2 linked regions of the Homo sapiens genome follow. Changing the gene in region 2 together with the main gene of any one other region gives a genetic interaction. Each region holds a gene or a part of one and is shown on either strand. Other genes may lie near its edges.

Region 1 (3,500 bases), on a different chromosome or scaffold from region 2:
CCGACCTCAGATGATCCACCCACCTCGGCCTCCCAAAGTGCTGGGATTACAGGGGTGAGCCACCACGCCCAGCCCTGGGAGCTTTAACAGTGAGGCTTTTAGGAAAAATACAAAACTGATCTTCAGACACAGGTCATATTGGTGTATTTATTTTTATTTATTTATTTATTTATTTTGAGATGGAGTCTCACTTTGTTGCCCAGGCTGGAGTGCAGTGGGACGATCTCAGCTCACTGCCACCTCCGCTTCCCGGGTTCAAGCAATTATCCTGCCTCAGCCTCCCAAGTAGCTGGGATTACAGGTATGCACCACCATGCCCGACTAATTTTTGTATTTTTAGTAGAGATGGGGTTTCACCATGTTGGCCAGGCTGGTCTCAAACTCCTGACCTCAAGTGATCCGCCCTCCTTGGCTTCCCCAGGGTGCTGGGATTTCAGGCATGAGCCACCGCATCCGGCCTGATTGTTCATCGTTCAACAGATGTATTAGACAGCGTTAGACACTAGAGCTATTGGGTGAACAAAATGGAAGCAGTTTCCACCTTCAAGGAGTGTAAAGTGGAATGAGAGAGAGATGAGGTGGGGAGATTGCTCAGAGAGAGTAATTTCCTTACAATTGCACTACAGGCCATGAAGCAAGGACAAGAATACTGTGGAAATATTAACCAGGGACCCTATTCTAGCCTGATGAGAGTGACATTGAAACAGACCTGGAATATGTGTTAAGGAGAAGCAGATTAGAAGACTGAAGAGTAAAGGGAAGAGTGTTGAATGTTCATGGTTGAGGCACCAGCATATATAAAAGAAATGAGACAGGAAGGACCTCGAACCCTTATGAAACTGAAAGAAGCACAGAGTGAGTAACATAAACTAGTTGCATAGTTGGAGAGAGAATAGTACAAATGAAACTGTAGAGGTAGATTCTGTTTTGACCCTTTGAGGATGGAGAAGTCAGTTTACGGACTACACTCAGCAGTAAAAATAAAATTGAATTGATAGAAAACATCAAATGTGTCATACATAGTAAATATAAGTGATGAAATTTGTGTGTCTCATATGTACATGTAGATGTATACTGGGTTGTGAGGTATAATTTATCTTCCTGTGGGCTGCGTTAAAAAGAGAAAAGTTTTTTGGCCAGGCGCAGTGGCTCACGCCTTTAATCCCAGCACTTTGGGAGGCCGAGGTGGGTGGATCATATGAGGCCAGGAGTTCGACCAGGCGGGCCAACATGGCGAAACCCCATCTCTAGTAAAAATACAAAAATTAGCCAAGTGCGGTGGCACACACCTGTAGTCCCAGCCACTGGTGAGGCTGAGGCATGAGAATCCCTTGAACCTAGGAGGCGGAGGTTGCAGTGAGCCGAGATCACCACTGTATTAGCCTGGGTGACAGAGAGACTCCGTCTAAAAAAAACAAAAGAAAAAAAGAAAAAAATTTAAAGCCACTGGAGGGCGTCAGCCTCCCCGGTGGCTGGGACTGCAAGTGTGTGCCACCACACTTGGCTAATTTTTGTTTTTTATTTTTGAGACGGAGTCTCGCTCTTTTGCCCAGGCCGGACTGCAGTGGCGCTGTCTCTGCCACTGCAAGCTTCGCCTCCCGGGTTCATACCATTCTCCTGCCTCAGCCTCCCGAGTAGCTGGGACTATAGGCGCCTGCCACTGTGTCCGGCTAATTTTTTTTTTGTATTTTTAGTAGGCACGGGTTTCACCATGTTAGCCAGGATGGTCTTGATCTCCTGACCTCATGATCTGCCCGCCTCGGCCTCCCAAAGTGTGCTGGGATTACAGGTGTGAGCCACCGCGCCTGGCCAATTTTTGTATTTTTAGTAGAGACTTTGGAGTTTATTCTGAGAGTAATAGGAAGCCATTGAAGGATTTTAAGTTGGAGAAGATTTTCAGATTTGCCTTACCCAGACTATTGTGGAGAGTAATATGGAGGGGGACACTAATGAAGTGGCAGAGAGAGGAGTCCAGATGAGAGATGATGGAGAACATAAGTTCCATTAGAATGGAAGCGCCAGGAGGGTAACCGTATGTGTTCACTATGCTGTCCCTGGCATCTAGAGCAGTGCCTATATGCAGTTGGCACCCAGTCAGTATTTATTAAATGAAGGACTGACTTGGATTGATATGGTTGTTATAGAGATGACAGATAGTGGAATTGGTTGGACATGATGTTCAGTATGTAGAACTAAAAGGCCTTGAAGACTGAGGACTGATTAGATGTTAGGATGAGAAGAGGAGTATTTAGGATTGATGCCAGGCACTGGCATGAGATGGGGAGTGCTGGAGGAGCAGGTTTAGAGGTGAAGATCCTGCATTCAGTCTGGGATATGTGGAGTTCGAAGTGACTATGAGATGTCTAAGTGGAGACATCAAGTAGGTAGTTGAAAATAACACTTGAGGGCCAGGCACAATGGCTCATGCCTGTAATCCCAGCACTTTGGGAGGCTGAGGTGGGAGGATTGCTTGAGCTCAGGAGTTTGAGATCAGCCTAGGCAACATGATGATGAAACCTGATCTCTACAAAAAAAAAAAATTTTTTTTGGAGGTGGAGTCTCGCTCTGTTGCCTAGGCTGGAGTGCAGTGACACCATCTTGGCTCACTGCAACCTCCGCCCTGGGTTCAAGCGATTCTCGTGCCTCAGCCTCCTGAGTAGCTGGGATTACAGGCACATGCCACCATGCCCAGCTAATTTTTTTGATTGTTTGTTTTTATTTTTTTTTTTGGGATAGAGTCTCGCTCTGTCGCCCAGGGTGGAGTGCAGTGGCACGATCTCTGCTCACTGCAACCTCCCCCTCCTGGATTCAAGCGATTCTTCTGCCTCAGCCTCCCGAGTAGCTGGGACTACAGGCGTGCGCCACCATGCCTGACTAATTTTTTGTATTTTTAGTAGAGACAGGGTTTCACCATATTGGCCAGGCTGATCTCGAACTCCAGACGTCATGATCTGCCCACCTCGGCTTCCCGAACTGCTAGGATTACAAGCGTGAGCCACTGTGCCTGGCCATTTTTTTGTATTTTTAGTAGAGATGGGGTTTTTCCATGTTGGCCAGGCTGGTCTCGAACTCCTGACCTCAGGTGATCCACCCCGCCCCCCCCCCCCCCCGCCCCCCCCCCCCGCCGGCCTCCTGAAGTGTTGGGATTACAGGCGTGAGTCTACTGTGCCCAGCCGCTACATATATATGTGTGTGTGTGTGTGTGTGTGTGTGTGTGTGTGTGTGTGTGTGTAATTTTTGTTTGTTTGTTTGTTTGTTTGTTTTTTAGGCAGAGTCTCACTCTGTTGCCCAGGCTGGAGCGCAATGGTGTGATCTCGGCTCACTGCAACCTCCACCTCCCAGGTTCAAGCAATTCTCCTGCCTCAGCCTGCCAAGCAGCTGGGATTACAGGGGCCCACCACCACGCCCAGCTAATTTTTGTATTTTTAGTAGAGATAGGGTTTCACCATGTTGGCCAGGCTGGTCTTGAACTCCTGACCTCGTGATCCACCCACCTTGGC
Region 2 (3,500 bases):
TTTGTATTTTTAGTACAGACAGGGTTTCACCATCTTGGCCAGGCTGGTCTTGAACTCCTGACCTTGTGATCCACCCACCTCAGCCTCCCAAAGTGCTAGGATTGCAGGCGTGAGCCACTTCGCCCGGCCTCTTGTTTCTTTTTTTTTTTTGAGACGGAGTCTCTCTTTGTCGTTCAGGCTACAATGCAGTGGCTCCATCTCTGTTCACTGCAACCTCCACTTCTGGGTTCAAGTGATTCTCCTGCCTCAGCCTCCCGAGTAGCTGGATTACAGGCATGCGCTACCACACCTGGCTAATTTTTGCATTTTTAGTAGAGACGGTTTCACCATGTTGACCAGGCTGGTCTTGAACTCCTGACCGACCTCAAGTGACCTGCCCCCCCCCTTGCCCTCCCAAAGTGCTGGGATTACAGGCGTGAGCCACCATGCCCAGCCTATAAGACTTGTTTCTGCTGCCTCTCATGCTCAGTGGCTTGTTTCCATTTCCTTGTGTGTGTCTAGTATTCTTTAGTATTTGAGCTTATGCTTAGGGCTCAAATCTTTTTTTTTTTTTTACCCCCCTTTGGAGATTTTTTTTCTCATTGGAGATTTTGCCTTGCTTATTGAAAGCCCAACAGTGCATTAAAAATTTAATAAGTATCTAGTTAAATTATAGTGGGAACATCTCTCCAAGTAGCTCATCTGCCAAGTCTATATATAGAAATATGTGGTCTTATTGTGAAACTTGCCCCTTCTCTTTTTTCCCCTCCCATTTAACAATATATTAGATATCTTTCTATGTCATTATCTCATTCTTTTTCATGGCTGTGAAGTATTCCTTTGTATGAATAGATAATAATTTAACCATTCTACCATTGCAGGACATTAGGTTGTTTCCAGTTTTTTTTTTAAATTACGAAATTACAGTAAACACATTCATATGTATGTCTTTGTGCGTTTCTGCTAGTATTTCTGTAGGATTGATTTCTATAAGTGGCATTAGTGGTTGATGAGATTTTGATTAAATAATGTCAAATTGACCTAAATAGGCTATGCTAGTTTATACCTGTACCAGCAGTGGCTGAAAATACCCATTTTTCCTGTACCTTCTTTTTTGACTCTAGATATTATTGATCTTTTTAATTTTACTAATTAAGGAGAGAAAATTCATATTTCTTTTAGAATTTGATGCTTTGGTTATTAGGGTAAGCATATCTTCATGTATTTATTGGACATGTAATTCTTTTTTTTTTTTTTTCAAGACAGGGTCTCTGTTGCCAAGGCTGGACTGCAGTGGTATGATCATAGCTCACTTCAGCCTCGACCTCCTGGGCTCAAGTGATCATCCCACCTCAAATTCCGAAATAGCTGAGATTACAGGTGCATGCTGTCGTGCCTGGCTAATTTTTGTATTTTTTGTAGAAATGGGGTTTTGCCATGTTGCCCTGAGCTTAAGCAGTTCTCCTGCCTTGGCTTCCCAAAGTGCTGGGATTACAGGCGTGACCCACTGTGCCCGGCCCTTGGACATTTATTTCTTCTGAAAATTGTTCATTTTTCTGTTCTTTTTTTATTTTTGAGACAGAGTCTTGCTCTGTCATCCAGGCTGTAGTGCAGTGGTGGAATCTTGGCTTACTGCAATCTCTGCCTCCCAGGCTCAAGCGATCCTCCCACCTCAGCTTTCCGAGTAGCTGGGACTACAGGCATGCACCACTGTGCCCAGCTAATTTTTGTATTTTTAGTAGAGACAGAGTTTCGCCATGTTGCCCAGGCTGGTCTCAAATTCCTGGGCTCAAGCGATCCATCGCCTTGGCCTCCCAAAGTGCTGGGATTACAAGTGTGAGCCACTGGCACCTGACCATTTATCAGTTTCTCTGTTGAATTATTTCTTATTGATATATTAATATGCAGTAGTCTCCCCTTATCTGTGGTTTCACTTTCTGCATCTGAAAATATTAAATGGAAAACTCCAGAAAAAAACAACTCATAAAATTTAAATTGGTCACTATCCTGAGTCACTTGGTATAAACTTCTGCTGTCCCACCAGGAACGTGAATCCTTCCTTTGTCTGGTGTATCTGTGCTGTATGCGCTACCTGCCTGTCCATCACTTAGTAGCCATCCTGATTTTCAGAAAACTGTTGCAGTTTGCAGTGCTTGGATTCAAGTAACCTTTATTTTATTTAGTAGTGGCCCCAAAATGCAATAGTAGTGATTTTGGCAATTAGGAATGCTAAAGAGAAGCTGTAAAGTGCTTCCTTTAAACGAAAAGTTGAAAGTTCTCAACTTAAAGAAATTAAAACAAAAAAAAACTTTTCAAATCATATATTGAAGTTGCTAAGATCGATAGTAAGAATGAATCTTCTATTGTGAAATTGTGGAGAAGGAAAAAGAAATTCATGCTAGTTTTGCTGTTGTACCTCATACTGTAAAAGTTATAGCCACAGTTCACAAGTGCTTAGTTAAGATGGAAAAGGCATTACATTTATGGGTGGAAGACATGAACAGAAATGTGTTGCATTTGATGGCAGTCAGGTTCGGTACTATCCGTGGTTTCAGCCATCCACCATACTTAAAATGTATCCCCCTGGGACTACTGTATGGTTTGTGTTGCAAACATTTTCTACCAGGCTGAATTTTTTTTTTTTTTTTTTTTGAGAAGGAGTTTCACTCTTGTTGCCCAGGCTGGAGTGTAATGGCGTGATCTCGGCTCACTGCAACCTCTGCCTCCCAGGTTCAAGCGATTCTCCTGCCTTAGCCTCCTGAGTAGCTAGGATTACAGGCATGTGCCACCACACCTGGCTAATTTTGTATTTTTAGTAGAGACAGGGTTTCATCATGTTGGTCAGGCTGGTCTGGAACTCCTGACCTCAGGTGATCCACCCGCCTCGGTCTCCCAAAGTGCTGGGATTACAGGCTTGAGCCACCATGCCTGGCCTAGGCTGATTTTCATTGCTATCTTTTTCAAGAAATCATGGTATGTTTCTCCATTTCTTCACATCTTTAAAAAACATTTATTTTAATGAATTTTTACAGATTTCTTCTTATATGTCTTTCATGTTTCTTAAGTTTATTTCTAGGTATTGAATTTTTTTTTTAACTATGGAAGTAGGATTTAAAAACTTACTATTATATTTTCACTTTTGGCATGAGAGAAAGCTAGTTTCTTTCTTTACATATCTTGTACCTGACTACTTAACTCTTAGTTCTATTTTCTGTATATTCTTCCCTGTAAGTTTGCCCATAGTTACCTTTGTTCTGAAAAGGAGGGAATTATTTTTCCTTCTCCTTTCTGGACTAAATAGTCTCTTGTTTTTAGGGCTGTGGACCTGGACTTGTGCTATTAGGGCTATAGTTGAATAGCAGCATGGGATATCATCTTTGTGGCCTTGCGAGGGAACATAACCACCAGACATAATCTTATTTCTGTGGGAAATGTTGTTCTAAATGCCAAAGTCCAAATTACAAGACTTTTTGCATGCACTTCGTTCAAAAAGAACAAGATTTGGGCTGCCTTTAGATTGT

Evidence for each region.
Region 1: changes in SNIP1 (region 2) and RTF1 together harm fitness less than expected from each alone (positive genetic interaction), as found in Homo sapiens cells (one large-scale study listed by BioGRID).

Annotation. Positions count from the first base shown.
Region 1 is NC_000015.10:41,423,595-41,427,094, forward strand, and holds part of RTF1 (RNA polymerase-associated protein RTF1 homolog), read left to right. Parts: intron 1-3,500. UniProt on the Homo sapiens protein: Component of the PAF1 complex (PAF1C) which has multiple functions during transcription by RNA polymerase II and is implicated in regulation of development and maintenance of embryonic stem cell pluripotency.
Region 2 is NC_000001.11:37,540,794-37,544,293, reverse strand, and holds part of SNIP1 (smad nuclear-interacting protein 1), read left to right. Parts: intron 1-3,500. UniProt on the Homo sapiens protein: Required for pre-mRNA splicing as component of the spliceosome. As a component of the minor spliceosome, involved in the splicing of U12-type introns in pre-mRNAs. Down-regulates NF-kappa-B signaling by competing with RELA for CREBBP/EP300 binding.